6 separate regions of the Homo sapiens genome follow, and all the other regions are linked to region 6. The links come from fine-mapping of genetic effects on gene expression. A gene starts in region 6. Each other region holds a variant in brackets. All regions are shown on one strand. Distances are between the middles of the regions.

The links. PIP is the estimated chance that this variant, and not a neighbour inherited with it, causes the effect.
Region 1: its variant is fine-mapped to the expression of SLC2A9 in whole blood (INTERVAL, PIP 0.99).
Region 2: its variant is fine-mapped to the expression of SLC2A9 in whole blood (TOPMed, PIP above 0.99). The same link has a PIP of 0.9 or more in monocytes and monocytes after Pam3CSK4.
Region 3: its variant is fine-mapped to the expression of SLC2A9 in whole blood (TOPMed, PIP above 0.99).
Region 4: its variant is fine-mapped to the expression of SLC2A9 in whole blood (TOPMed, PIP 0.95).
Region 5: its variant is fine-mapped to the expression of SLC2A9 in blood mononuclear cells (TOPMed, PIP above 0.99).

What each region holds. Positions count from the first base shown.
Region 1 is chr4:10,108,376-10,113,450 of GRCh38, reverse strand. All of the region lies in intron 2 of WDR1 (WD repeat domain 1), which reads left to right. Among named protein-coding and RNA genes, the nearest start is that of WDR1, 5.9 kb to the left of the region's middle. RefSeq lists an enhancer at 1-128 and a silencer at 1,572-1,866. The variant T/A (reference allele first, on the strand shown) is at 2,627.
Region 2 is chr4:10,061,923-10,066,997 of GRCh38, reverse strand. It overlaps LOC124900665 (a long non-coding RNA gene), which reads right to left and starts at 2,984. Exons shown (of 2, transcript XR_007058029.1): 1 at 2,904-2,984. RefSeq lists an enhancer at 3,041-3,655. The variant C/T (reference allele first, on the strand shown) is at 2,749.
Region 3 is chr4:9,983,225-9,988,299 of GRCh38, reverse strand. SLC2A9 (solute carrier family 2 member 9) reads left to right here. Exons shown (of 12, transcript NM_020041.3): 4 at 2,507-2,631. It overlaps SLC2A9-AS1 (SLC2A9 antisense RNA 1), which reads right to left and starts at 177. Exons shown (of 4, transcript NR_183862.1): 1 at 156-177. The variant C/T (reference allele first, on the strand shown) is at 3,021.
Region 4 is chr4:10,204,654-10,209,728 of GRCh38, reverse strand. No RefSeq gene overlaps it. Among named protein-coding and RNA genes, the nearest start is that of WDR1, 90 kb to the right of the region's middle. The variant G/T (reference allele first, on the strand shown) is at 1,947.
Region 5 is chr4:10,042,410-10,047,484 of GRCh38, reverse strand. No RefSeq gene overlaps it. Among named protein-coding and RNA genes, the nearest start is that of SLC2A9, 23 kb to the right of the region's middle. The variant G/A (reference allele first, on the strand shown) is at 2,302.
Region 6 is chr4:10,019,540-10,024,614 of GRCh38, reverse strand. SLC2A9 (solute carrier family 2 member 9) reads left to right here and starts at 3,118. Exons shown (of 12, transcript NM_020041.3): 1 at 3,118-3,335. The coding sequence starts at 3,186. RefSeq lists an enhancer at 3,137-3,636.

The DNA.
Region 1 (5,075 bases), 89 kb before region 6:
GTACCTGCTAGTTATTGCCTTTGCCTGGACATTTTCTCAGATAGCTGCAAGTCTTGCTCCCTGTCTTCTCTTTGGTTTTTCTTTTTTAATTTGAGGTGGAGGCTTACTGTCGCCCAAGCTGGAGTGCGGTGGCGTGATCTTGGGTCACTGCAACCTCCACCTGCCGGGTTCAGGCAAATCTCCTGCCTCAGCCTCCCGAGTAGTGGGGACTACAGGTACGTGCCAATTCACCTGGCTAATTTTTGTATTTTTTAGTAGGTAACGGGGTTTCGCCGTGTTGGCCAGGCTGATCTTGAACTCCCAACCTCAAGTGATCTGCTCGCTCGCCTTGGCCTCCCAAAGTCCTGGGATACAGGCGTGAGCCACCACACTAGGCCTTTCCCTTTGGTTTATACTTAGATGTAGTCACCTTAGTAGAGGGGTGTCCCCGGAATAGAATTTTCCATCCCCGGCCTTCTGTCTTTCTCATTGCTGACAATAAGTAGGAAGCAAGCTAACAAGCAGCAGGCTACGGCTGCCTACAAGTGTACATAGGTATCTGCCTGTCCCCCTAACTGGGCATCAGCTCCAGGCCAGCAGGGCTTTCCCCTCTCTTTCAGTCACTGCCGTGTCCTCGCCTAAGAGAGTGTCTGGCACACAGTAGGTGCTCAGTGAGTTACTCATTGATTAAAAAGCCTGGAAAACCAGGCTGTGTCGTGAAGATAATAGGCAGCCACTGAGGTCTTACTGCATGAGAACAAGGAAAGCTCAGCTCAGTGTAGATTGCCGGACCTAAATTTTGTGGAATCGCCTTTCATACCTAAGAGGCGAGCACCGTTGCCAGCTTTGCACTTGGAGCCCCCTCTGTCATTTATTTTGTTGACTTAAAAGCTGTTTTGTGAACCCAGCATAATGGCACTTCTTAAACTTGTAGAAAAAGGGTGTTTCTTACCTGTTTATTTCAACACATCTCGTTGCCTCACCTGGAGAGGCAACTCTCCTCTGTAGAGTGAAAGACTATAATGGTGGCCATGTAGAAACTAATATTCCAGAAGGAGAGAGCTCCAAGAAGGGGATTCCAGTGAACCATATGTACACTGTGTTTGAGAGACATTAGTTCCCCACGGAGAAGGGATGGATAGTCTGTGCTTCGGGGGTCTAAGGAAGGCTTCCTGCAGGTGCTGGTACCTCCTTAGGTCTGGGGTGGTTCCTTCTAAGTTTCCTTACCCTGCCTGCATCACCTCTGCCTCTTATGACCTCTGTGCAAAGACTGGGAAGGGTCACCCCCAATGGCTGTGAACGAACCTGTTTGTGATTCTAAACAGGGCACGGGACCATCCTACAATAAAAATTACCCAGCCTAAAATGCCAGTAGTGCCAGTAGTCCCTGTTTAGAAAAAGAAAAAAAAAAAGCAACTTTTGCCTCACAACAGAGGCCCTCTTGTGTGCTGCCAGGCAGCCAGCAGATTTGCTATGCAGGCAAGTTTGGGGCCTGGTTTTTAAAGTATCCAGTTCCTAGATTCCAGAACTAAAATACACATTTGGAAAAATGATGTCTATAAAATTGAGTTTCCGGGAGTGCAAGGTTTATAGCAATTTGACACTGCTGGGAACCCAGGCGCAGTATCAGTGGACTTTTCTCCTTGAACAGGGGGCAGACCAAGTGGGGGGTTGGGGAGGGTATTGGGCTCACTCTTGGTTTCCCTTGGTGTGAGCTGCCACCATTCACATGCAGAGGACTCACCTGTGTTTCCTGCGGGTTGGGGGTAATGGTGGCATGACAGAGGGCTTGAGGACTGACCTAGCTGCTTCTCCGGAATTGGACGCCTGCTGACTACCTGCGTGTATCCAGATGGCCATTGGCCTGTGGGGGTGCAGGATGGAGGCCCTGCCCACATGGAGCTCACTGTCCTGGGTGGGAGTGAAATAAACTCTAGGTGGCAGAAGGAAGTGGTGCGTTGGATTATCACCTGGGTGCAAACGAGCTGGCAGCAGCGCCTGCCAGGTGCAGAGCCAGGAACCTCTAGGCCTTCAGTCTGACCACCTGATGGCAGGGGAAGCAGAGGGTGGTGGGGGGCCTTCATCTCAGGAGAATCTGAGTGGCTGCAGGTGCCAGTCAGGACGCTGGGCTTCTGCAGATGGGACCACATCTGGGAGGACCGAAGGGCCGGGTGCTTATGGGCTGTTACTGTGGCACTGAGCGTGAGGGGAGTGGACAGGACCCAGGCTGAGAAGTGCTGGTGTGCAGTGGTGGCAGGTGGCTCACACAGCCCTACCATAGCGCAGCCCTGCTCTGAAGGCCACTGGAGCCATTCAGAGGTCTCACAGACAAGTAATCAGATCCAGCCTACGGTAAGGAGAAGTTCTGTATCTGAGATCTGAGGCAGGGAAGCCAATTAGGAAGCTGCTCAAAGATGAAGGCGGCGTCAGCGCAGGTTCCGTTGCGTGGTGCAGCCATCTCTGGCTCTCACGTTTCCCACACATGTTCACTAAGCCCCTGTCTTGGCAAGCCATACCCTAAGCCACAGAGGACCAGGATTAAAATCAGTGATTTTCAGGGAGGGGTAATTTCCCCCACCTCATTCCCCTGAGGGATATCTGGCAACGTTTGCAGACATTTTTGTGCCACTGGTATCTGAAGTCAGGG[T/A]TGTGGCCAAACATCCGACAAGGTACATGGCCGTCCTTCCACAAAGAACTGTCCAGCCCCAAATGCCAGGGGTACCAAGGTTGAAAACTCTGGTAAAGAACCTTCGAAGGCACCAGGTTAAGTGCTTCAAAAGAACAATGCCCTGGGTGCTCTGGGAATGTGAGGGAGGAGCCAGCTGTGCCACAGAGCGGGGACAGCTGCTGGAGAAGTGCCACATTTGAGTTGGGTCTTGAAGGATGAATAAGAGTTCTCCAGGAGGAGCGTTGAGACACACGGCAGAGGTGGGGAGAAACCAGGCAGGAAACAGCATGTGTACCTGGGTCCTCTCAGCCCCACTGTGGCCTCCTGTGTGTTGCTTTTGGTACATTTCTTGCCCTGTTGGAGGTAACGGGAGGGATACTGAAGCCATCTTTGAGGTAAGAGAAGAGGTTTAGCCTCATGCGTAAGACTACTGGAGAGATGGCCTTGCCCAAGAGTAGTTGGAGATGCTTCTTTGGAGAGTGACCTCCACCTTCTGCAAGGCCCTTGTTAGGGACAGCTGTGGACACAGGAAAGGGCCCTGTGTGCGTCTCTTCGCCGTCTCAGTGATGGGCAGGCACTCCCTGCCCTGGCGATGTGCCTGCTCCTTAGACCTGTGGGTCCTTAGCTTTGGTCACCTTGCTTGTCACTTCTACGTATGGGTCCTGCCTGCTCTCCAGGGAAAGGCCAGCATCCCACCCCTACCCCCGCCCCACTGTCCAATCCAGTGTATACCCCTGAGCACCTCTCTGTTCTTTGTTGAGTGTATTTTGTGCTGGTCTGTGGCTGAAACTTGGTGTGCTTGCCTCTTCTGTTTCCATGCCTGCGAGAGTGGGAGGAATGTTATCATGGGATCAGTGTAAGATTTAACGGAGCTAATTCGTAAAGCATCTTCAGAAGGTTGTCTGGGCCCTGGCAGGGACCTCTGCTCTTGTCTTCATGACTGCCCTGTTGGGTGGATACCCTCATCTCTCTTTTGAGAGGTGAGGATGCTGAACCTCTGGAAGGTGCTGGAATTTGAACCCTGGGAGCCACCCCCAGGTCTACCTTTGCAACTCATCAGTTAAGGCCCTGGTGGGCCCTGGGTGGGGAGTAGGAGAGGGGAAGACTGAAAACGGAGGTGGTGGTGTCCCGCTCACACGTAGTCCAATGAGGGGTGCTGCTGTGCAGGGCCACACGGTGAGTACCCCCAGGCCTGTTTCAAGGCATCTGAGGCTGAGCTGGGAGGCAGGAGGGGAAAGTCGTTCAGGGCATGGCGGCCTGTGAGTGACCACCCCGTCCTCAGCCAGCTCAAGGAGCTGCCTGTACACTGTTTGGAAGCACACAGCTGGTTGGCCAGTGCAGACTTTATTCTCTGTATTAAAGAATCACACTAACATTGAGACCAACCGTAAGGAAGACAACAAAACCACAGGGAGGAGTAAAGGCCGCCACATATGGTCCCTGATTTGCAGTGACGTGACCTGGGATTGTGTGAAGGTGTTGAGCATTTGTTACCTCCCTTGACTCACCGTGCTGTTAGTTATATGCTCATAACCCAGGTGAGTCAGCAACTGGCCCTGAGTTCAGGTCTGGCGCTGCCACTTAACAGCTGGGTGGCCTGGGGCGTATCGCCCAGTGTCTGCCTTGGTTTCTTTGTCATGTGGGATTATGAGGTTACCTTCCTTACAGCAGGTGTTGTGAGGTTTCAAAGAGAATCCACTGAGGGGCCCACCCAGGGCCTGTCTGAGAGTGAATAGTAAGTGGCCGGTGGGGATTTGTTTCTTGATAAACAGCTACCAGGCTCCAGCCAAGTTCTGGTCTTTGTCGGTATTTGGCAGCTGCTATGGTGAATCAAGTGTGAACCTTCCCCACTCTGGTGTCCACGTAGTACAGAAGGCAGGTGGGGCACAAATGATGTGTAGTCCAAGGTGGAAAGTAGTGAGGGCAGTGGGGTGGGAGTCAGGGAAGGTGGGGGTTCAGGGTGGGAGAGATGATTTCTAGCTTGGAGCATCAGGGAAGGCTGCTTGGAGGAGAAGCCCTTTGCCTGGGCCTTAAAAGATAATTAGGAGAAGGCGTTGTGTTGTCGCAGAAGTTTACATTCCTGCTTTGGAGCTGAGGTTTTTTGCTGTCATTCAGCCTTGGCCTTAGTTGTAGTCACCAGTGAACATAAGGGCCCTGGCCAGTTATATTTGCACAGGTCAGTTACAGCAGTAACAGCTTTCAGCCTCTGTTGCTTGCAGGAACTTGGAGTATTTACAAAGCCAGTGCCCTGACTGGAAGCTCACGCTCACTTGGCCTGGGTGGACCATGGAGGACGCCTGAGACTTTCTCTGGGGTTCCCGGGGACAGTTGGCAGCTAAAGGAGGGCACAGCAGGCCCCTTCATCAGTGTTGTGTCGTCATCTGCTGAAATGTTTTTTGCTTGGGCAGGTATCTCCAACCTTCTAGCA
Region 2 (5,075 bases), 42 kb before region 6:
AAGATCACATCATGCAGCCAAAAAATTAAAAGGATTGTAAGGGATAATGCTGGCTGCAGCCGTCAATGTGGCCCCATTGAGAGCAGGATGAGGACGTTTACAGATGGAGACAGACACCATTTCACTGGCAATTGAATTAGAATCATCAGCTTAGCTCGCTTCTGGTCCCATCACAGATTAATCTAAATGGCACCCCAAGGAGACATCATTTTTTAAGCAGTTTGGGATTAGAAAAGGTCACACTTCTGAGAACGCTCCAGAGAGAAACACAGTGGTACCATTGTCTTCTGAATTCTAGCTTACCCTGATTTTGTTTGTACTGCATAAAGTCAGGTCAAGCAGTATGCCTCAAATAACTTGGATTTTTGACAATTACGCCTTCTTTCATGGCTGCCTTCCTGCCCTCCCTCTTTCTATTCCTTTCTCTGTCCTACCTCCCTCCCTTTCTTCTTCTTTCAATTACAGCCTCTAGTTCATTGGATTTGGAAACAAAATGAATATTATTTGAAGATTGCAAAGTATTCATCAAAACTCAGGTTTTGCCAAATTAAATGGCCGCAAACAAACCACAGTCTTTGCCCTGGGAGGAAAGCTGCCTTGATCACTGTCTCAGCCACAAGAAACAAACACATTCTTGGGTTTAGCTGACATGTCCCATAGAGACCTCATCCGTTTCTTCACTTTATGGCACATGGATGTACTAGTTATTTAGCTTTTGCTCATGTAACTTGTAAAACCTTCTCTAAGTGGCTTAAAAAAACTTCTTGGGTCCCACTCTGTTGCCTAGGCTGGAGTGCAGTGGTGCGATCATGGCTCTCTGCAGCTTCAAACTCCTGGGCTCAAGGGATCATCACATCTCAGCCTGTCGAGTAGTTGGGACTACAGGCACGCACCACCATATCTGGCTTCTAAGTGGCTCTTGCTCTTTTCAGTTATTCCTTTCTTTTCTGGTTTTTTTTTTTTTTTTTTTGAGATGGAGTCTCGCTCTGTTGCCCAGGCTGGAGTGCAGTGACGCAATCTCAGGTCACTGCAACCTTTGCCCCCCAGGTTCAATCAATTCTTGTGCCTCAGCCTCGCCAGTAGCTCGGATTAACAGGCACATGCCGCCATGCCCAGCTAATTTTTGTATTTTTAGTAGAGACAGGTTTCACCATGTTGGCCAGGCTGGTCTCAAACTCCTAACCTTAAGTGATCCGCCCACCTCAGCCTTCCAAAGTGTTGAGATTATGGTGTGAGCCACCGCGCCTGGCTCTTTTCAGTTTTTCAGTCTTTGCTTTCAACTGGAGCACATTCTCAGCAGCAGCTTTTGCTGTAGCAAGCAGTGTCAACAGCATCCCTCCGGCAGGTGACTTCCTTGAGTTGGCTTCCTCAACCTCAGCACAACCAACTACTCACATTTCAGGTGGGACAGTTCTTTGTGTGGGGGCTGTCCTGTACATTGCAGGGTGTCAGCGGCATCCCTGGCCCCCATTAGATGCCAGTAGTACCCCCTGCCCCAGTCGTCACAACCAAAAATCTCTCCGGACATTGCTAATTCAGAAAAGAGTTCCTTTTTATTTTTAAAGAGCTAGGTTTTTGTTGCTGTTGTTACAACTCTGTGATCTTAACAGATTAATTTTCTTAGGAAGAAAAACCATGACTGAGATATTTAGCTTCTTCGTTATAATTCAAAATTCACTCAATCATTTATTCACTCATGTAATCAACTGTAGGGGCAGCAAAATTCCACTTCCATACTCTTAGGGTCCTGCTTGTGCTGGAGAATTTAACTGACATAAGACAGATGAACAGGAGGAAAGCATGCACATTTTTAAATACAAGTTTTATGTAGCACAGGTACCCTCATAAGGAAATAAAGTCCTGAAGAAGTAGTCAGATATACTGAATTGGACAAATAATAGTAAGTTGTGAAGAAGCAACTAAATGATGTGGGGAGGCTTAAAAGGTAAGAGTTATTTGCACAAGGTTGGTACAGAATTCTTTCCATCTTAGCTTCTCATCTTTGAGAATAAGACTGTTGCATCTTTCACATAGGGATCTCATCTTTTGCTTTTAACAAATGGCATGAAGGTCAGAGTGATCTTCTTGCATCTGCTATTTTTCTTTTTCTTGTTTTTTTTTTCGAGACGGAGTCTTGCTCTGTCACCCAGGCTGGAGTGCAGTAAAGCGATCTCCGCTCACTGCAAGCTCTGCCTTCCGGGTTCACGCCATTCTCCTGCCTCAGCCTCCCGAGTAGCTAGGACTATAGGCGCCCACCACCCCGCCAGGCTAATTTTTTTTTTTTTTTTTTTGTATCTTTAGTAGAGACAGGGTTTCACCATATTAGCCAGGATGGTCTCGATCTCCTGACCTCGTGATCCTCCCGCCTCGGCCTCCCAAAGTGCTGGAATTACAGGTATGAGCCACCGCGCCCGGCCACACCTGCTGTTTTTCAAGTGGCTTTAACTTAGTGTCAATATGCCCGAGTGGTGTAATTTCACTCCTTCAGAGCCAATGTTCATTGGTCATTAACTAGGCCCAGACACCTCACTTGGCTTTGGGGACACACGCAGCTTTGAGAATAAAACAGACATAGGTTGTCTTGTGTCACTGCATTTATTTTATTTTTTAAAGACAGGGTCTCACTCTGTCACCTGGGCTGAAGTGCAGTGGTGCCATCATAGCTCACTGCAGCCTCAAACTCCTGGGCTCAAGTGATCCTTCCACCTCGGCCTCCCAAAGTGCTGGGACTACAGACATGAGCCACCA[C/T]ACCTGGAAATTTCACTACATTTATAGAGCAGTGGAGAAGAAGGTAAACAAGGGATTCCAGAAGTGCCACGTTGGTAAAGAATGCTCACACAGCTGTGGGAGCCCGATGAGGGACATGAGGTCCAGCCTGGCATGGATAGGAATTATCATCCTACCTTTCTGGTTTCCATGAGGTCCTGATGTACAGAGCATAGCATACTGCCATGTCCTTGAATGCCCATTTCCCATTCCTCCTGCCAGCCTTGATTTAGAAGTCCTTCTCCTGCTTTCTGGAGGCCTGCATTGTCTCTGGTGTCTGAGGTCCCTGGTTGCAGTGCTCAGCTTAAAACAGCAGAGAGCAGCTTCAGATCATGGCTGGGCAGAGGCTGAGTCAGCCTGCAGGATAACTGGCTCCTAGCAGAGGCGCTAAGGAAGCCTGGTATGGGCCAACGGACCAGGCAGGCCCTCCTTCCAAGCCTCGGCCAACAGGAACCCGTTTCCTGGCTTTCAGCCCTCAAAGAAACTGCCTGGGTCTGTTTTGAAAGATCTCGAGTTGGCTGAAAGGGACATTTTCCCCATGACTGGCACTGGTTGTCAAGCCTGCTGGGCCCAGCAGGAGGAATGCCATCTCTTTTATCTCACCTTCTTTGTTAAGAGGATGGGCTGGCAGGGAACCGCTTTGCAATTATCTTGTTTAAGATGAGCAGAGGAGATAGTTGCTCCCTGCAGGGATAACCCAGGTCCCCAAGCCATCTCCTTTAACCAGCAAATACATGAGCATTATTCTAGCTCATGGCCAGGGTGGGAGGAGGCTTGGTTAACTGGACACGGTGGCCTGGCGCCTCACTCTCCCTATCAAATCCTATCAAAGCTTCTCTGTTCTCAGCTTCTTTCTCTTGGGCAAAAGAGGTAAATTGCAATAATTTGTTCCGAAGGGGTGCTAATGGGTGGCACTCAGTTGATTTCTCATTCTCCCCACTTCCCCAAATCACTTAGCTGGTATCTCCGTATAAACAAGCCCTTCTCTACTTGAACTGAGGACTAAAGGAAATATATTTGTCCATATAATGGGGCTTTTATCCAAGAAGCATTTCTCAAAGTGTGGTCCAAGACCACCCCTATCTGTAACGACTTATAAAAATACGGATTTCCTTCAGCTCAGCTACATTGCCACAAATGACAGGATTGTATTCTTTCTCGTGGTCAAATTTGTATTCCGAGGTGTATGTACACTTTCTTCATCCACTCATTTGTTGATGGACACAGGTTGATTCCATATCTTGGCTATTGTGAATAGTGCTGCAATACACATGGGAGTGCAGACAACTCTTTGGGAAATGGATTTCCCTGCCTTTCCTTTGGATATATACCCAGTAGTGGGATTACTGGATCATATGGTAAGTGAAATAAGCCAGGCACAGAAAGGTAAATACCACATGTTCTCACTTGTATGTGGAAGCTAAAAACGTTGAGCCTATAAAAGTAAGGAATAGGTTGGGTGCAGTGGCTCATGCCTGTAATCCCAGCACTTTGGGAGGCCAAGGCTGGCAGATCACGAGGTCAGGAAATCGAGACCATCCTGGCTAACAATGAAACCGCGTCTCTACTAAAAATACAAAAAATTAGCCAGGCGTGGTGGCACGCACCCGTAGTCCCAGCTACTTAGAATGCTGAGGCAGGAGAATCGTTTGAACCTGGGAGGCAGAGGTTGCAGTGGCTGAGATCACGTCACTGAACTCCAGCCTGGGTGACAGAATGAGACTCCATCTCAAAAAAAAAAAAAAAGAAAAAAGAAAGAAAAGTAAAGAGTAGAACTGTAGCTACTAGAAGCTGGGAAGGATGATGGGGAGAGGAGGATAGGGAGAGGTTGGTTAATTGTTACTAAATTACATCTACATGGGAGGAATAAGCTATAGCATTCTATGGCCCTGTAGTTGATAATTTGTTTTCATAATGGTTTCAAATATGAGAGAATTTTGAATGTTTCCAGCATAAAGACATAATAAATATTTGAGGTGATGAATATGCTGACTACCCTGATTTGAACATTATACCTTTGTTTACATGTATCAAAATATAATATGTGTCCCATAAATATGTACAATTATTATGTGTCAATTACAAATAATTTTCAATTTTAAAAATATGGATTTCCACTGTTTGGCAGCATCTACTAGAATTAGACATATGCCTATCCTGCACCCATCAATTCCATGGCTAAGAATATACAGGAGAATGGAGCATTTATGCCCAGCCAAAGATATGGTTAGGAACATTTGAGCGGCACTGTTCAATAGCCCCAAACTGGAATCAACCTAGACGTCCATCAACAGGAGAATGGAGGAGCA
Region 3 (5,075 bases), 36 kb after region 6:
GGAGGCATCCTTGGCTCCTCTATGCCTCTCCACCTCTGTCCAGTCCATCAGCAAATCCCACCAACTCACTCTTCAAAATATGCTAGGATCTGACCACTTCTCACTAAGTGCACTGCTCCCAGCCTGGTCCAAATCATTACCAGTGGTTGACTCACCTGTTGTGGTAGCTCCCCAGCTGGTCTCCCTGCTTTCACACTTGTCCCCTGCAGTCCAGGAGCAACAGAGAAGACAAGATGTAGTGATCTTGTTCAAGTATTAGCCGGTGTCATTCCTCTCCTTGGAATCTCCCAGTGGCTGCTATCTCCCCCAGGGGGGAAACGCTAGTTCTTATGGTGGCATAGAAGACTCTCTGAGTTCTTCTTTTCTCTTCTCAACTTTCACTTTCTACTGCTTGCTCCCTGGCTCCCTACTGCCTCCAGCCAGGCTGGCCTCACTGATGTTTCTTTCTTTCTTTTTCTTTTCTTTTTTTTTCAAGACGGAGTCTCGCTCTGTCACCCAGGTTGGAGTGCGGTGGCATGATCTTGGCTCACTGCAATCTCTGCCTCCTGGGTTCAAGCAGTTCTCCTGCCCCAGTCTCCCGAGAGGCTGGTTTAGAGAAAAAAACTTATATTTTTATATAATGAGTATAATAGCATCTGCCATAACTGAGTCCCATAATTTATGACAAGAGGCAATGTTAGCTGGTGGGAAGAGCGCAAGTTCTAAGATCAGAGACCCACTGGGGCTCTATTGGGCAAAATAATTTTTTAACCACAATTTACAAAACAATTTAATATCTGTTAACTCATTGAGTCTATAGGAAAAAAAATAAGCCGTAAAGGGCTAAGATGTTTCCCCAACTCCTTGACTCACTGACTATATGACCTAAAACAAGTTTCTAGGCCGGACGCAGTGGCTCACGCCTGTAATCCCAGCACTTTGGGAGGCTGAGGCAGGCAGATCACCTGAGGTCAGAAGTTTGAGACCATCCTGGCCAACATGGTGAAACCCCGTCTCTACTAAAAATACAAAAATTAGCTGGGTGTGGTGGTGCATGCCTGTAATCCCAGCTACCCAGGAAGCTGAGGGAGGAGAATCACTTGAACCTGGGAAGTGGAAACTGCAGTGAGCAGAGATTGTGCCAATCCACTCCAGCCTGGGTGATAGAGCAAGACTCTGTCTCAAAAATAAAAATTAAAAATAAAACAAGTTTCTAGCTTGCCAGCAACCTAGTTAACTTGTTTATAAAATAGAGATTATAAGAGTACCTATCTCTTTGGGTCATTCTGAGGATTAAATGAGCTACTAATGCAAAGTACTTAAAGCAGGGTCTATCCTATAGCAAGAGTTCAATAAATGTGGGCTTTTAGGATCATTTTGCAAAAGTGAGGAAAAGAAAACACAGAGAAATGAAGTTCAAAGTCTCCTAGCTCCTGAAGGATAGAGCTGGTGCAGGAATCCAGGTCCCCAGGCCTCCAAACAAGTCAGGTATTTGAACCATGAGGTCTTAGGCATGTGTTTATAAAAGTGATGGCAGTCCTGACACAGAGCTGTTAATAATAATTATTGCCATGGAAATTTCCCTAATCTTGTTTGAGAGGATTAGTCCAGCCATTCACTTAGTACTGTAGTTCATCAAATCTAAGATGCCATTGGGTCTGAGGAGTATTGTTATTTTATGAGCCACTGGAAAGGAAAGGAAATAAGGAAGAAAGGGAGGGAGGGAGGGAAGGAGCCAACAAAAGTTGTAGAACGCTATGCTGGTTGTCAAGCTGTTGTCTCCTAGCTCCACACTTACCCTTCTGGGCTCTCTCTCTCTGATGCTGGGGCTGGGGCCTGCACCCCCATTTGTCCTTTGCCAATAGGGGCACTAGAGGAGAGAGAAAAGACTAGCTTTTTCATGTTTGTCTGAGTTTCCTGCCAGTCCCAGTGATGACATTGGCAGTTGATTCCAGCTTCCAACTTTTGTCCATTTCCAGAACCAGAATCATATTGCTCCTCAGAGGAAACAGTCCAGTGGACAGTGCCCACTCTCAAAGGTCTTCGGGGCCCTCCTCCATGCCCCTGAGGTGTCAGCACCACATGGGAAACACCCCTTCTTCAGAGGTCTTCCTTTTTGACATCTCGGTTCTTCAATATCCACTTAACCAATTCCCTATGTTAAATTCTCTCCATTAAAATACCTAGAGTGGTTTCCATTTTCCTGCCTGGACCCTGACTCACGAATTGTAAGATGACCACTGACTTCAGAAATGTTAAATGATAGTCTTAGAATTAAAGCAATAAAATACTACCACAGAGAATTCATAGATGTCAAGGCTGATGGTGCCTTTGTAAGTGACCTAGTAGACCCCAGGGCTGAACCCAGTCACACAGCCAGAGGTGGCAAGGCCAGTGCTCCCTGCACTGTGCCTGAGTCTTGCTCTACTCACCCTTCAGAAGGGCCTGGCTCCTGCTCCTGGGATGGACAGTTCAGTGACATGCCTCATGGTTAGACATCTTCATCAAATCTTTCCTTTCTTTCCAGGAAGCACACTTTGCTGGCCAATAATGGGTTTGCAATTTCTGCTGCATTGCTGATGGCCTGCTCGCTCCAGGCAGGAGCCTTTGAAATGCTCATCGTGGGACGCTTCATCATGGGCATAGATGGAGGTGAGAGTTCACCATGACGGGGAGGGAACAGTAACATACTCCTTGGGGGTGTCCCAAAATGTGAGAAGTGTTTGGGGCTGTCACATGACTGGGGCTCTCTGCTGGCATTGACTTGGCAGGGACCAAGGATGCTGGAACTCTGCATAAAGTGGGACAGTCCTGTGGGATGAACCATCCCATTCATGATGCTCTAGCCCCTAATTGAGGAATGCTGGGCAGGGTCCGCAGTCTACCCCAAAGACCTGGATGGTCTTCAGCATGTCATGCCTTCTGTTTGGTCACCTTCATCATAATGTTAATATTCCAAGGTTATTTGTGGTTTTCATGGGGCTTTTATGAGGATGGGGTTTCTTCTCTGGGCCTCTGACTCATTCGTTATTTCATTTACT[C/T]GCCAGGCATTTGTAGAGCACCTGCGAGGGCTGGCACACTATAGGATGGAGACACAATGATTAACAAGACCCTGTCCCTGGAGCTTACATTCTAGTGGGCAGACAGATACATAAGGTAGACAGTAGCATGTCCTAGGAAGAAAACAAAGCAGGACAGGAGGGTGGTGAGGGCTGTTTTAGAAAGGCCAATCAGGGAAGACTGCTCAGAGAAGGAAACCTGAGCAGAGACCAGAGGAGCCAAGGGTGAGAACTGTTCCCAGCAGAGAGAAGAGTATTATGTCTCAGAGGCGGAAGGAGGCATGGCACGTCTGGGAAAGAGCAAGGAGATGTGTGGGTGCTGATGACGCCAAAGAGGAGCTGGGGCCAGATCACATAAGACCTTGTAGGCCACGGCGAGGACTGTGTGCCTGTGCCGAGTATGCAGGGAGGGTTGAGATGAATGTGACATGGACTGGTTTGTTCCAGTAATGGAGTATGAGGGGAAGCCAGGAGTGGAATCAGAGGAGCCAGCTGTTCAGGGGAAGGGACTGGGCTAGGTGGGGAGCTGCAGAGAAGGGGACAGATGCTGGCTATGGGAGTGAGAGTAGGAGACTCAAGATATATTGTCAGACAAACGCTGCTCTCTTTCTAAATAGGCAAATCCATAAAGTATCACTTTTAGGCATTTGTGGAAAGATTGCAAGCCTTAGGATTAGAAATCCCTGAGTTTGGATCTCAGTTCTGCTGCAAGTTACTTAATGGCTCTGAGCCTTGGTTTTCCCATTTGTAAAATGGTGGTAATAATACCTACTTCAAAAGGCTATAATAAGGCTGAACGGAAACACACACTCTGTCTCTCTCTCTCTCTCTGTCTCTCTCACACACACACATATACACATATGTACTGCCTGGAACCTAGCATGAGCTTCTTAAAGGCTAATTCCCTTCCTTGTCGATGTCTTAAAAGCTGAGGGTACCAGGTTGTTCAGCTGAGTGAGATGAACAATAAAAATGTCTCAGGGAGAGGTGAGCAGGAGAGTGGGGGCCTGGAAGTAAGGTTGAGAAGAGGAGGCTTCACTTACTTTTGTTGCCCTGCTGGAGGGGAATAATCTAGGCCTCTCTAATAGTCCAAACTCAAGATGAAATGACTCCTCAATCATTTGTCTATTCATTTGTCTATACTACTTGAATAGACTCCTTCTATTGATGGCTATTGAGAGTTTATCCATAAGAATAATGGCTGGTGTCTATGTAATGTTTTATAACTGACCAACTGTGTTCATGCTTTTCATTTTTTTTGATCTCCTCCTGTAATGAAAGACTGTTTTCTCATGTTCATTTTACAAATGGGGGCCCTAATGCTCAGAAAGCTGGAGCAGGAAAGTGGTTAAGGGTGAAGACTATGGAGTCAGACTGCCTGAATGCTCTCACTTGCTTCCATTAATTTCATTAATTTATCTGTATAGGTTAGGTTTGATGTATTTAAAAACCCCGAAACTTAAGCCATGATGGCACCACTGCATTTTAGCCTTGGCTACAGAGCGAAACCCTGTCTCTTAAAAAACAAAACAAAACTTAATGGCTTCAAATAGTAACCATTTTCCTGTGCTTTCACTTCTGTGGGTCGGCTGGGCAGTTCTGCTCTGGGCCAGCTCTGCCAATCTCTGCTGGGCCTTCTCATGTGTCTGCGGTGGCTTCAGGTTGGTCAGTGGCTGGATGACCTGGGATGGTCTCACGCCTGTGTTTGGGTGTTAGCAGGTGGCCTGGTCTCACGGGCTGTCAGTGGGCCAGCTCATTTCTTGGCTTCCCACCCTGGGCCAGGGGGGCCTGGGCTGCCTTGCATAAAGTTCTTGGGCTTCCAACAGCAGCCAAAGGAGAAAGTCCCAATGTGCACAATGTGCAAGCACTTTGCATGCACGTTTGCTGGTGTCCCTTTGGCCCAAGCAAGTCCCATGGCCACGTGCAGAATAAATGTCAGAGAGGACTAACTCCCCAAGGATGTCGATCCAGGGAGGGGGTACAAATCAGGGACCACTGCAGCAACCATTGACCTCACAGTCTTGGCCTCTTTCCCAC
Region 4 (5,075 bases), 190 kb before region 6:
GCACCTAACAGGAGGATTCTTGGGTTTCAACCACGGCCCAAGTCCAAGTAATAAAGAGAACAGAAGACTTAAGATGCAGAGAGAATTGAAAGTGTTATGATTCTCTTTAGATCATTCTATGACCAGAAAACCTATCACTATTGCACCTAATATTCAAGCTTTATTGGAAAAATAAAGTTGCCAACATTCGTTTTGATCATGAGACATTTGTCCAGTGATTTTAGTGATTCAGCCTTACCCACTGACAGGTTGGCCAAGGAAGGTCCCCTTCCCCATCCTGTCTCCCTTCACAAGTCTGAAGCATCTAATCCTGGCAAGTGGACCTCACATCCCAGTCCCCATCACTCCAGATCAGCCAGGACCCAGGTAGGACCCCTTGCTGCCCCCATCCCACCCTCTTGCCCCTGTGCTCTCTTTGGGACTTTGCAGGACCCTTAATGAACCCGCAGCCAAGAACACATCTCTGCTGGCAGAAATCCAATGACCAGCTGCCCCAAACACCACAGGACCTCTTTTTCCCATCCAGCCCAGCCTACCTAGGATCTGTAATCAAGGGTTAAATATGAAATAGGCAGAAAAGTTCTGTATCTTCCCTTAGAGGGAAATTCACAAACCTACCATTAAAAATCCTTAACTTTCACCTCTAAGTTGGTTTTTCTGCTAGGATTAGGGTTGCTTTAACTCAAGTATCAAGCAACAGATCAGGTAAACTAAGGAGATACCAAGTCCGAGAAACAGCATTAGAACGGCAAGTGACATTAACACCATCCACATTTCTACAATGTCACACAGATTAGGGTAATATAACACAAGGACATTAGGGAGTTAAGGAAACCATTCTGTGGTATGGATCAATTCATATCTTGCAGGGGTTAAGTCAACTATTTACCTCCTCATGGCAAACAGTTGCTCTTTAGAGAGCCTCACTCACCTGTCTGCTCTGTAAAGGGCAAGGACTGTTGTTAAGAACATGCTGCCTGCATCCTGAACCTCCCAAGCATCATACAATCCTACAGGTAGACTTGTGAACTTGATCTCCATTCCTGTCTGCCACAGTCTGAGTAGGGACAGGTGTGAATGGAGCTTCAGTGATTTCTGTGGCAATCAACATTAGGATAAGGGACAGAAATTTAAGGAAGAGTTGAAGACTGGAGTCTGCAACAGCTTCTGGGCATGAATGTAGGTGACTTGGTACCTTGAAGATCTTGTTGCATACCAGGGTATAATCAACACACCTGCAGATCATATTGGGGCAATACAAGTATCAGGTAACATCAAAGATCATAGAAGTTAGAAAAACATCCAGTGAGTTTTCCCCCTGAAATTATCTTTTTCAAGCCCTATGATAAGACTTGCATACATTGAGTGGAGGTGGCTTACTGAACCTAAGCTCTGGAGTGTTCATTCCTAGGCTCTGCCTTTTCCCTCCATCACTGGCTTGAGCATTCTAAGTCATTCTAGCTATGAAGAATGTGTGAAGACTGGCAGAAGGACCTACTTCTGGCAAGACATTTCTCCCAACTGGAGGTGGTGGATGGATATGTGGCATGTTCATGAGGCACCAGACCCAACAAGAAGTCCTGCTGCTGTCATTGCCATCTCTCCCTGTGGTTGCTCCTGGCATCTCACAGGCCTGGGCACTGGTTAAGGGAAGCTAGTGGGTCACTCCTCGACTGTTCATCTAGACAGCATCCTGGGCTAGGACACCACTTCTAGAGAAACTTGGATTTCTATGTGAATGTTTTTATACCAGTAAAAATACCCTGCCCCCAAAGTGTTGGGACAGCTGCTCCAAGGGCTCAAAACAGTCCTAGAATGGTCCCTCTGAAACACTTGTTACTTGGACTTGGGGTCAGAAGAATGCCAAACACAGAAAGCCTCACTGATCACTGGTTCAAACTGAGTAAATCAGTGGGGCAGGGATCTTCTTTCATGTGCCTATTCTG[G/T]AGTTTTAAGTATGGAAGGGATGTCATTCTATATTTGACTGCATTTTTGAAATTGGTCTTTAATCTTCTGGAGTCCCATGTCAGATGGGAGTGTACTATGAAGTATGTATTATGGCTTTCATGCAACTTATGGTATATCTTGGTGAATAACTACCTCTTCTGGCATTTAGTGCCATTCTGGAAAAATACATTCTCTCATTCATCCTCATTGAGGGTCCACTATCAGTTTTCTTTTTAATGGGAAAAAGTATACATTCAGTCTCACTCTCAAGGTAACTCTCCTGATCTTTGCCCCAATATCATTTGCAGAGGTCTCAATTATGCTGACATTCCCCAGAAGAGCCTGCTGGGTCACTTACTGGTATCACTTAAGTCAGACCTGGGCAACAGGAAAGTAGGAAGTACCCTGGAGAACACCTGTGCGCCAGAGACAGGGAGAAACTTATAAGCCCAGGGGCTCAGTGACATCACTGATGTTTTTAGTTATCTAAGGAATGCAGGGACGTTACTTCCAACTTTGAAATTATGGGAGAATTTCTTGCATCTTTTTCTCCTACCATGAAGTGTACTTTCAAAATAGGTAGGATTTTTTGGATTTCAGAGAAAGCATACGTCACACTCGACTACTCCAAACCATTTTTCTGGGCTCAAATGGCTAAAAGTTCTGAGGAGGACTCCAAGAAAATGAGGGCTCCACAGCTAGTTTTGGTCTAAGCTGTTACCATGGATGTAATCCCATAAGAGACAAGGCAGGAGAGGATGTCACGGGTGCTCTCTAGCAGACTCCATAGCAAAAGGTATATTGCACACCCCTAATATACTAGCCTAAGTCTGCACCTTTTTCAGATAAGCCTTCTACTAGCTATCTCTAAGCATGTTACTGGGCCTTAGAAAGTGAGCTCCTGGCCATGAAACATCAGGTAACTGTTTATAACTGCTCAGTATGAGCTAGGTGCTGTGAAGTCCCATCCAGGCAAACGTTCTAGTAGGCACAGAAACAGTGTTATAAAGTATTTGTACAGAAAGGCCAGATTTAAGTTAGAAAACCAGGCGGCTCAGATTCCCGTCATCCCCCACCTCACACTGGGCCCCTTGCCATCTGCGACAGTGTAGGATACTCAATCCCACAGCTACTGGCAGCTTTCTACACACAGGATTCTAATCACCAACCGTGCAACACCATTCTCTTTCCCATGCAGGCATTCCTACGTTAGCAAAGACGTCCGGGACAAAGACAGTTCTGGCCTTAGTGTTTCTACTGTATGCCGTAAGAAAAACGTCTGGATTCTGCACAATACAGGGCATTTGAGAATACCCGCAGAAGCACTGACCAGCACTAGGAGTTAGAAAAGCTGTTCTTGATCAAGCTTCCCCTTCTGACTATGAAGAAGCCAAGAGGCAAGGAGTGAACTCCAGAAGTCAAGGGGAAAAACATGGAAATCCCAGATTTAAACAATTGTCAGTAGAAACTGAACAGGGACAGCAGGCTTCTAACTCCCAAGCACAACTGCATTACCAGGAACATCAGTGAAGGGGACTAAGAACTGTCCCACGTGATGATGATGTTCTCTGCCAAGGGAATAGAGCAGAAGGCAGTGACAGCCCAAAACCTAGCATACCAATTCCCCCATTACCTTTAAGACTGCCACCAGTTAACCTGCTTCACCAGGACATACTGCAGGGCCCAGGTCCAACACCTGGAGCTGACCAGAGGCCAGAAATTAGACGTGCAAGTGCCTGCTTGCCTTTACCCTAGCCAAATCAAGATGTATTCCCAGCACAGCTGAGAACAGAATCCAGAAGTCATTACAAAGAGTCAGGTGGACAAGGGGTAAATGTCTAGGTTGAAGAGATGGATCCTCCTGAAGTGGCTCTTCTGAGTTGTCCGCCCTGGAAGAGTTCAGTGCTCTCTCCTTGAGGGAGTTCATACAACTGTGGTGGCAATGTCTGGTCTAACATGGCAATAGAAATTCCTGAAGATCAGCTCAGGCAGAGCTGAATGGCTAGAGAAAATGGAGCACTTAAGTCACCCACTAGAAAAACTATGCACAAGTGCATATCCCCCTTCCCTAACAGAAAGGTCCTCTCATCAGGCTTTTCAATATGGCAGGAAACAAGGATTTTTGGCATTACGACTAGGGTAATAATTGGTTTCCACTCCAAAGGGTAGTCCAGATGCCTCCCCCTAAGGATGTACTTCATCTTACTCATGGGTAGGCCAGAAGCCTTCAAGTTGACCCCATACACCTGCCAACAATGACACAGTCATGGCAATAAGTACCCAGAACCTTTTTGCAAGTGTGACTGTCCAAATGACCAATGATGGACTGTGAGTCATACATTTTATAAGATGAAAGGTCAACTGTCAGGTCCGTGTGAGCACACAGCCATCTCATATTTGCCAGTACAGTCAGCTATTATGTTCCAAGTGCCACTGACTATTCTGTATGTACCTCCACATAACTCTCCTGGTGTATGTAATGTATGTCTGCTTGAATTCAGATGGAATGAGATGTACACCTCCAACTGTGAGGTGATCTCAGCTGCAAGTTTGACATTGCCATGCATTTGGGATTATTTACATTTACATCTGTCATTTCCTAAAACCTTAAGTTGGATTCCTCAAGCTAAAGGTTGCCTTTAAGCCTCTGAAGAACTGGGAAACTTGAGACTTGAAAGCATTCTTGAGTGAAAGAGTAAAGAACTAGAATGAGAGGTAATGTAGTTTACTATCCAAGGTTACGGTTGTCTCGGAAGAAGTTGAGGCAGATGTTGACATGGAACAGAGCCACCTAGAAGAGGCCTCACAAGAGAGGACACAAAGCAGGACACAGTCATCCTGCCTGCCCCAATGCGTGCCCCAAGCAAACACCCACAGGCTCCCATACTCCCACTGTCAGTGAGCTGCCAACACTTGGAACGCAGCCACCTGGCGATGGGGTGTCACTTCCAAGTGTACTGCTACCATATTATAGGCTCTAGGACAAGCTCGGTCACTGAGCAGCAGTCACACATGAGCCTTGGTCCCTGAAGAACTGCCCATGGTGTGAGATTACAGTGCCAGTTATTTTTTATGAAGAGATTTGTACAACTTGTGTGAAGGGACAAGTCATGAAGGATTCTAAAAAA
Region 5 (5,075 bases), 23 kb before region 6:
GGAAGGGCAGCCTGCTTTAACTCAGTCGGCTACTTCAAATGCTAATTTCATCCAAAAAGACCTTCACAGAAATGCTGAGAGTAGTGTTTGACCAAATGTCTGGGCACCTTGTAGTCCAAGCATATTGATGCATACAGAACCATCACATTAAACCATCACAGAATCCATCTTCCTGGCTGGCCTGTCCACAAGGCAGAAGAGAAAGTGGAGAGTTGGAGCCATCTCGGCTTGGAATGCTGACGTAAAACTGTGAAGAAGGAAGGGAGGCAGAAGACTTTAGAGTAAGGGTGGATATTAAGGTAAAATCTGGGATCTGGCTTAAAAGAGGAGAACAGAGAGGGCTGGTGAACTTGGGAGAAGCTAAAGTGTCAGTGGCTCATCACAGTCACAGATGGAGCAAACAGAAGCAGTATTGGATGAGGTCACTAGGGTTGCTGTAATAAAGTCTCACAAACCAGGTGGCTTCAAATAGCGGAAATGTATTCTCCCACAGTGCTGGAGGCCAGAAGTCCAAAATCAAGGTGTTAGCAGGGTCATGCAGCCTCTGGGTGGAATCCTTCCTTCCCTCTAGCAGCTTCTGGTGGTGCCCATGGGCCCTTGGCATCCTGTGGCTGGCAGCTGCATCACTCCAAGCTCTTCCTCTGTCATCATATGGACGACACAAGGAGAGCTCCCTGTGTGTCACAGTCTCCTTTTTATAAGGATACCAGTCATACTGGATTAGGGCCCACCCCAAGTGACTTCATCTTAACTTGATTACCTCTGTAAATAGTCTATTTCCAAATAAGGGCACATACATAGGTCCCGGAGGTTAGGACTTTAACATATCTTTTCAAGGAGACACAGTTCAACCCATAACAGGCATAAACTCTAAACGTCATGGCTTACCATGTGATATGATTTGGCTCTGTGTCCCCACCTACATCTCATCTTGAATTGTAATCCCCACACATAGTGGGAGGGGCCTGGTGAGAGGTGATTGGATCATGGGGGCAGTTCTCCTATGCTGTTCTTGTGATGGTGAGTGAGTTCTCATGAGATCTGATGGTTCGAAAGTGTGTGGCACTTCTGCCCTCTCTCCTGCCACCACGTAAGATGTGCCTTGCTTCCCCTTTGCCTTCCTCTATGAAAGTAAATTTCGGCCAGGTGCGGTGGCTCACACCTGTAATCCCAGCACTTTGGGCGGCTGAGGCGGTTGGATCACCTGAGGTCAAGAGTTTGAAACCAGCCTGGCTAACATGGTGAAACCCCGTCTCTACTAAAAATACAAAAATTAGCTGGTCGTGGTGGTGCTCACCTGTAGTCCTATCTACTCAGGAGGCTGAGGGAGGAGAATCACTTGAACCCAGGAGGCGCAGGTTGCAGTGAGCTGAGATTGCACCACTGCACCCCAGCCTGGGTGACAGAGCGAGACTCAGCCTCAAAAAAAAAAAAGAAAGAAAGAAAAAAAAAAAGTAAATTTCCTGAGGCCTCCTCAGCCATGCTGAACTGTGAATCAGTTAAACTTCTTTTCTTTATAAATTACCCAATCTCAGGCAGTTCTTTACAGTAGTGTGAAAACAGAGTAATATACCATATTGCTGTGAAAATTAAATGAGGTGATGAATGATAAGATATTTTTGAAAGGAAAAAAGCACAGCAAATTATTGTTTCCTGTACTAGTTAGGTCACTAGTAACAGTCTCTTGCTTGTCTTGGAATGGATAGTCATTCAGATGGAGATGATTAGTCAGGCTCAAGGTAGAGACACTTTGAACTGGAAGATTCTGACCTATCGGCATTTCTCCATTTGAAATAGTTCCAAAGACAAATGATTACAGAAACCACAAACTCAAGGGTCTTCTGAGCCATAAATGAAATACCATTCTTGGAGTCAGCAACATGGAATGTGTTAATTATTACTGAGATGTGGAAATATGTCACAGCATTGACAGTGAGCTTTATTCATTCAAACCTCCTCACTTGGACTTTGTGATATTCCAACCCAGAGATTTAGTCTTTTTATATGACTATCTCATAAAAAGGTGTGTTTACTTTTTTTGCTCTTTTTTATGGTAAAAATACAGAAAATTAAAATTAACCTTCTGGCCGGGTGCCGTGGCTCACGCCTGTAATCCCAGCACTTTGGGAGGCCAAGGCGGGCAGATCACCTGAGGTCAGGAGTTCAAGACAAGCCTGGTCAACATGGTGAAACCCCATCTCTACTAAAAACACAAAAAATTAGACAGGCATGGCAGCGCATACCTGTAGTCCCAGCTACTCGGGAGGCTGGAGGGGAGAGAATCGCTAGAACCCAGGAGGC[G/A]GAGCCTGCAGTGAGCCGTGATCACGCCACTGAACTCCAGCCTGGGCAACAGAGCGAGACTCCGTCTCAAAAAAAAATAAATAAATAAAATAAATAAATAAATAAATAAATACAAAATAAATAAAATAAAAAATAAAATAAACTTTCTTAACCACTTTTATGTGTACAGTTCAGTAGTGTTGAGTATATTCACATTATTGTGCAACAGATCTTTATAATGTTTTCATCTTGCAACCATGAAACTATATCCACTAGACGCTACTTCCCCTTCTCTCTTCCCTCTGGCTGTTGTTAACCACCCTTCTGCTTTCTGTTTCCATAATTTTGACTATGTTAGATACTATAGAGTTAAAATAGATCCCTACAGTATCTGTTCTTCTGCAGATGGCTTTTTGTGTTTAGCATAATGTCTTTGAAATTGTTGCATGTTGTAGCATGTGACAGGATTTTCTTCTTTTTAAGGCTGCATAGTAGTCTATGTTATGTATATACTATATTTTCTTTATCCATTCATCTGTTGATGGGAATCTAGGTTGCTTCCACCTGTTGGCTATTGTGAATAATGCTGTACTGAAAACATGTATGTACAAATATCTTTCTGATACTCTGCTTTGAATTCATCTAGATATAAACCCAGAAGTGGGATTGCTGGATCATATGGTAACTCAATTTTCAATTTTATGAGGAACTTCTGTATTTTGTTTTCTGTCTTGTATTTCCACTAACAGTGCACAAGGGCTCCAACTTCTTCACATCCTTGCTGACACTTATTATTTTCCATTCTTTTGATAGTGGCCATCCTGATGGATGAGGTGACAATACATTATGGTCTTGATTTGCATTTCCCTAATGATTAGTGATATTGAGCATCTTTTTATGTGCTTATTGGCCACTCATATCTTCTTTGGAGAAATGTCTATTTAAGTCCTTTCCCCATTTAAAAATTGTCTTATTTGTTTGTTGTTGTTGTTGTTGAGTAGTAGAAATTTCTTATATATTCTGCATAGCAATCCCTTATCAGATACATAATTTGCAATTATTTCCTCCCATAGGTTGCCTTTCCACTATGTTGATTGTTTCTTTTGATGCACAAACGTTTTTGAGTTTGGTGTAGTCTTATTTGCCAATTTTTGTTTCTGTTTCCTGTGCTTTGGGTGTCATATATAAATCATTGCCAAATCCAATGTCCTGAAGCTTTTCTCCTATGTTTTCTTCTAGGGGTGTAATAGTTTTAGGCCTTACATTTGGGTCTTTGATTCATTTTCAGTTGATTTTCATATCTGCTGCAAGGGAAAAGTCCAACTTCATTCTTTTGCAGGTGGATATCCAGGTTTTCTGACACCATTTTTTAAACAGACTATCCTTTTTTCACTCTGTGGTCTTGGAACTCTTGTAGATTATTTGGCCATAAATGCAGGGGTTCGTCTCTTGGCTGTCTGCTCCTGCCATTGATCTATATATTCATCTTTATGCCAGTACCACTACTGTTGCTTTGTATTATGTCTTGAAATCAGGGAGTGTGAGTCCTCCAGCTTTGTTCTTTTTAAAGATCATTTTGGCTATTTGGGGTCCTTGTAATTCCATATGTATTTTAGTATTTTTTTCCAATTTCTGCAACAAATGCAGTTGGGATTTTGACAGGGATTGCATTGAATGTGTAGACTGCTTTGGGTAATATGGACGTTTTAACAATATTAATCCTTCCAATTAAAGCACATTGGATGTTTTTCCATTTATTTGTATCCTCTTTGATTTCTTTCACCAATGTTTGGTAGTTTTCCATGTACAAGTCTTTTACCTTGGTGGTTAAGTTTATTCCCAAGTATTTTATACTTTTTGATACTATAGTAAATGAACTTGTTTTCTTAAAAATTTCCTTTTTCAATTGATCATGGATAGTGTATAGGAACACAATTGATTTTTGAGTGTTGATTTTGTATCCTGAAATTTTGCTAAATTTGTTTATTCATTCTAGCAGTTTTTTGGTAGGATCTTTAGGGTTTTCCACATATAAGACTGTGTCATTTCCAAATAGAAATAATTTTAAGTCTTCTTTTCTGGTTTGTATGTCTTTAATAATTTCTTTTTCTTTTCTGATTGTTCTGGCTAGAACTTCCAGTATTATGTCAAATAATAATGGTGAGAGTGGGCATCCTTGCTTGGTTCCTGATCTTAGAGGAAAAGCTTTCAGTGTTTCTCCATTGGGTATGATGTCTGTTGTGGGTTTTCCATGTATGACTTTTACTATGTTGTGGTAGTTTCTTTCTATTCTTAGTTTGTTCAGTGTTTTTTTTATCATGAAAGGGGGCTGAATGTTGTCAAATATTTTTTTCTGCATCCATTGAGATGATCAGGCAGTTTTAGTCCTCCATTTTGTTACATTGATTGATTTTCATATGTTGAACCATCCTTGCATTCTAGGCATAAATCCCACCTGGTCATGATATATGATCCCTTTAACATGCTGTTGAATTTGGTTTGGTAGTATTTTGTTTAGGATTTTTGCATCAATATTAATCAGGGGTTTATCTATAGTGTTTTTTTCTTGCTGTGTCTTTGTCTGGTTTTGGTATCAAGGTAATTCTGTCCTCATAGAATAAGTTTGAGAGTGTTCTCTCCTCTTCAGTTCTTTGGAAGAGTTTCAGAAGAACTGATGTTAGTTCTTTAAATGTTTGGTAGAATTCTGTAGTGAATCCTTCTAGTCCTGGGCTTTTCTTTGTTGAGAGCTGTTTGATTACAGCTTCAATCTCCTCACTAGTTATAGATCTGCTCAG
Region 6 (5,075 bases):
TAGACTGGGCAGCTTAAACAACAGAAATGTATTGTCTCACAGTCTTAGAAACCAGAAGTCCAAGCTCAGAGTGTCAGCAGGTTAGTTCCTTCTGAAGCCTCCCTTCTTGGCAGAAGTGGCTGCCTTCTCCCTGCGTCCTCACGTGGTCATCCCTCTGTGTGTGTCTGTGTCCTCATTTCCTCTTCCTATAAGGACACCAGGCATACTGGAATACAGCCCCATGCATATGACTTCATTTAACCTTAATTACCTCTTCAAAAACCCTATCTCCAAATACAGTCACATTGTCAGGTACTTGGGGTGAGGACTTCAACATGTGAATCTGAGGGGACACAATCAGCCCATTGAGACGCACACCATCCCTGCCCACAGTGAGCTCCCGTGCAGAGGGGAAGGCACACGTGAGCAGCAGCACACGTGCAGAGGGGAAGGCACACATGGAGCACAGAGGCAGCGAGAGGTTGGGGAGGCTGCTGGGAGGAGGTGGCGAGAGAGTTAAGTGCTGAAGGGTGAGCACAGTTCAGGGCAGTCAGAAGTGAGGGCCTGAGCAAGGTCAGGAGAACCTGAATGAGTAGGAGCTTCATAAAGACAGGCAAGTAATGACTGAATGAAGGAACCAGTGAGTGTCAGAGCAGGCAGAACGTGCCCCAGCCCAGAACATCTGGGGATGTTTGTCTTATGACTTCATCTGTGATAGGAGTCGCTTCCTTAGCAGTTGCCTGCAGTGCAGGGCCGATGGCCCTGTGGAATGGGGAACCAGCCCTCGCTTTGGAGGCAGGCTCCTCCATGCTCCCCCTGAACTTCAGTTGCCCCGAAATGTAGGTCTGATAGTTCCTCTGAGGACTAAACGATATCATGAAGGTGAACACACTTGGGAAAGCCCTGTGCACATGTAACATGAGCTGTGCACATGTAGTAGGAGCTGAAGGTGAGGCAAGTGCTGTGGCTACCAGGAACCCTGGTTAGCTACCATCTGGATCCGGGAGGGACCCATCTCCGCTCTTTTACTTTCTGTCCAGCTGTAGCTGCACATTCATGTCCACTGCCTAATTTCTGGTTCCTTTTGAGTTTTCAAACCCAACAGAGGACTACGAAGCAATTTTTAACGGGATGAGGGGACACCTGATCCAATTTGAGCTTTAGCAAAATCTGGTGAGGTCCCCACTGTTACAGATGAGGAAACAGGGAGGGTATAGAGAGGGGAGTCACAGCAATGGGATGAGGAGGGGTAAATGAGATGATGAAAATGCAGTCCCTATCAGGACAGCATAGGGGCAGAGGGGCCCTCCATGCACAGGGATGCAGCTGTCCCTGCCCCTCCTCTGCCCATCTCCTGTACTTCAGGCCCCAACCATGCTTCACTGACAATTTCACTTCCTCCCACACACTGCAGGCATCTGTGCCTGCAGGCCTTGGCTCCTTGTCCTCTCACCCCGTATCCTTCTCTGTCCGCTCAGAAGCCGCCTCTTCCAGCGGGGTCTCCAAGATCCAGCTGAGATTGATGTGGTGCCTCCTCCACACTGTCCTGGGGAATCCTCCGCCTTTTTAGGTCATGTTATAATTAAGGATTTGCACATCAGAATGCTGCTCTAGGCCCACCACTCAATGAGGAAACCAGGCTGCATAGCTGAAATCCAGTTCAAGAAACAGCCACTTCTCCCGGGGCATGCCTGACTGATTAACACACAGAAGGACGATTGCACTGAATGACTGGCGTGCTCAATACATCCCCAACCTAACTCCTGAGGGTGGTTTTCCTCTTTGGAAGTCTTGATTCCCCACTTGCTTTGAGCAGCCACATTCCCACCACCGTGCATGTCAGGGCCGGACGTTTCCACGTGCGTTTCACATTCCAGGTTCCTGGAATGTCTGCCGTACTCCACACCTTTTATTTTATTGTGTGCTTTTTACTAAACGTACTTTGCTAACTTTTCGATCTCTCTTTTGTGGACTGAGCCCTACCTTGCCTCCTGGACGTTCTGCATTCACCAAGCCTGTCCCTGGCTCTGGCCCAGACTCTGCACTGCTCTCTGCTTCTGGGAGCAAACTGTTCTAGCCAAAATTGAAGGTGCTTCTCTGGCGTCTGAGGCAACATGGCCATGTGATGAACTGATTCCCACAACCTCCTGGTGTGCATGAGGCCCTTGCCTTCTCAGTACTGTCCTTGAGCCAGCCTGGGGCTGGAATACAGGACATGTCCCCTCAGCCAGTGCTGAATGAGCAGGACAGAGTAACGACTAAGAGGCAAATTCTTTTTCTTCCAAACCCACAGCCCTCGCCTTTGTTCTAGGCTACAGGAGAGCCCACACTCATTTACAGCACGCCACTTGGGGCTGGCTGTTTTCTATTTGAGCTTCAGAATAAGTCTGCAGGACAGTCAGAGTGGGGTCAATATTCCATTTTGCAGTGGTAGAAGTTGCAGCTCAGAGAATAAAGTGACTTGCCTGAGGACACACAGTTAAAAAGTGGAGGAGTTGGCCAGACATGGTGGCTTACGCCTCTAATTCCAGCACTTTGGGAGGCTGAGGTGGGCAGATCACCTGAGGTAAGGAGGTCAAGACCAGCCTGGCCAACATGGTGAAACACAGTCTCTACTAAAAATACAAAAATCAGCCAGGCGTGGTGGCACACGCCTATAGTTCCAGCTACTTGGGAGGCTGAGGCAGGAGAATTGCTTGAACCCAGGTGCGGAGGTTGCAGTGAGCAGAGATTGCATCAGTGCACTCCAGCCCGGGCAACAGAGCAAGATTCGGTCAAAAAAAAAAAAAAAAAGTGGAAGAGTCAGGGGCAGAGCTGTATGCAGGCTTCTGAGTCAAAGTCAGCCACCTCTCCATTCTGTTCCAAGCATTAGGGAGGTATCCTAGGTTAATGGCAGTCACCCTGCTCCAGGCTTTGTTACCAGAGAAAAATAAAAAGATGCTAAGAAAAAAAAAAAAAATTCCACCCCCTGGGTGGCAATCCTGGAGAGGACAGATTTCCCTTTTTGGACTGTTTCATTGCTGTAATAACTTAGGAGCAGAGAAAAAAATGTTGCCCCGTTGCCTGTTCAGGCATGATCAAATTGCCACACTTCCTGTCAGGAACTCCCGCCCTCCTTCCAGTGGACTCTGCCTCCTCACTCACGGAAATGCCTTGGCAGAGTCTGGGGTCCCTGGACTGAGCCATCAGCTGGGTCACTGAGACCCATGGCAAGGAAACAAAATAGGAATTCCAAGGAACTGGGCCTAGTTCCCCTCACAGATGACACCAGCCACGCCGGGCCTCCAGGGCCAGGGAGGGCACTGCTGGAGTGTGACCACCTGAGGAGTGGGGTGCCAGGTGGAAGGAGAAGAAAGGTAACTACGGACAGCTTTTCTGCATGGCTGGCGGGCTGTGGGGAAGGCAGGCCTGGGTGGCAGCCGTGTGACAGTGCTCAGCCCCAGCCTGGCAGCGTGTAGCTGGGGGATCTGGGGCTTTGAGGCAGGGAGGCCTCAGTTTGAGTTGCACTTCTCCATCTGTGTGACTTTGGCATGCTCTCTCCAAGCCCCAGCTGACTGGGCCAACAGCGTCTCTGGTAGACTGGGTGTGTACATGGAATGAGGCTATGGTGGCAGGCTGCCCTGCCCCGCACTTGCATGGTGGTGTCCCTCTTCTCACCCTCCCCAGGGCATGGCACGGGCAGCAGCACCGTCGGTCAGTGGGCACCCTCTGCCCGTGCAGTGAGTGGGGAGCGGGTGGAGGGCACAGGCGGGCCACACAGGCAGGGGGCTCCGGGGAGCACAGCTGAGGCAGGAGAAGATGGCCCCCACCTGCCCTTCACCAGCCTCTGGCAGGGGCACTTCACACCAGGTGCTCCCAATCTGATGGGGTGCAGACCAGGGAGGAGTTTGTGTCCTCTAAGGTCATCGGGGCTGGGAGCAAAGAAGGCACAGAGCACAGAAACGATGCCCAGCACAGCCCAGGGGCTCAGAAGAAGTGGTATCTGTGCCGAGACTCAGAGGATAGGTTTAAAGAGAAAGAGTGATAGAGAACAGGCGTTTCATCTGAAATGTGATTCTGTTCCATCAGGGATCCCCATTCAGCTCAAGCTCCTCTCACTGCAGAAAAATATTCTGGTACTACATTTCAATTGGCAGCACCCATCCCCAAGGCTTATAAATGTTCCCTCTTGCCCCCGCATGTGATCAGCAGCCTCTACGGAGCACCTCCTCTGCAGCAGGCTCCTCAACAACATATGTGGCCAGTGCTGCTATTAAGATCCCATTTCACAGGTGGGCAAGCTGAGCCCCAGAAAAGTCAAGTCACTTGCTCAGACTCCTACAGCTGAGGGGACTGGCCCTGGAGGTAAAGCTGATATCACTTGGCTCAAAGCCCCAAAGCTCTATCTCGTGGCTGGTGGCACTAGAGGAGACAAACGAGACTGGCAGAGCAGGTAAGTGGCCATCAAGAGACCCGCATTCCCTTCCAGACGGGATTTGACTGATATGGGTCCCTGAACCATGGATCCATATGTCTTCTTCACTGTTGCACCCCCACAGCTTTGTCAGGGCCTGGCGCCTACAACACACACACACACACACACACACACACACACACTCACAAATATGTCAAATGATGGCAAAGAAGGTGCCTTCCGGAGCACCTGGCCCCTGTCCACTTGGCCTGTATTCCCTGACCAGCTGAGGACAGCCATCCCTCCTGCCCTGGCTCATGCCAGCTTGTCAGCCTTTGCCAGGGATCCAGGTGTTTCTGCCCTATGGCCCTGTACTGGTGGTGGCTGTCCTTAGATGGGGCTGCAGGGCAGGACAACACCAAGGCAGGCGCCCTGTTCTCTGTGCCAAACCTTGCATCTCTACGTCTGCAGGTCCTTGTCCTGAGGCTTGGACCAGCCCCTGTAGTTTGACGCCTCAGACTGGAACAGTATGTGCATGTAAGCGTGTGTGCACATCTGTCTGGCTGTCGGCAGTCTCAGGCCCTTGGACAACGGCACTCAGGTGACGGGTCAGCAGGGGACAGTGCAGTGGTGACTAGAGGGGCACTGCAGCCAGGCCACCTGGACTTCAGTCCCCATCCTAGACAGCACCAGCCACGCTCCC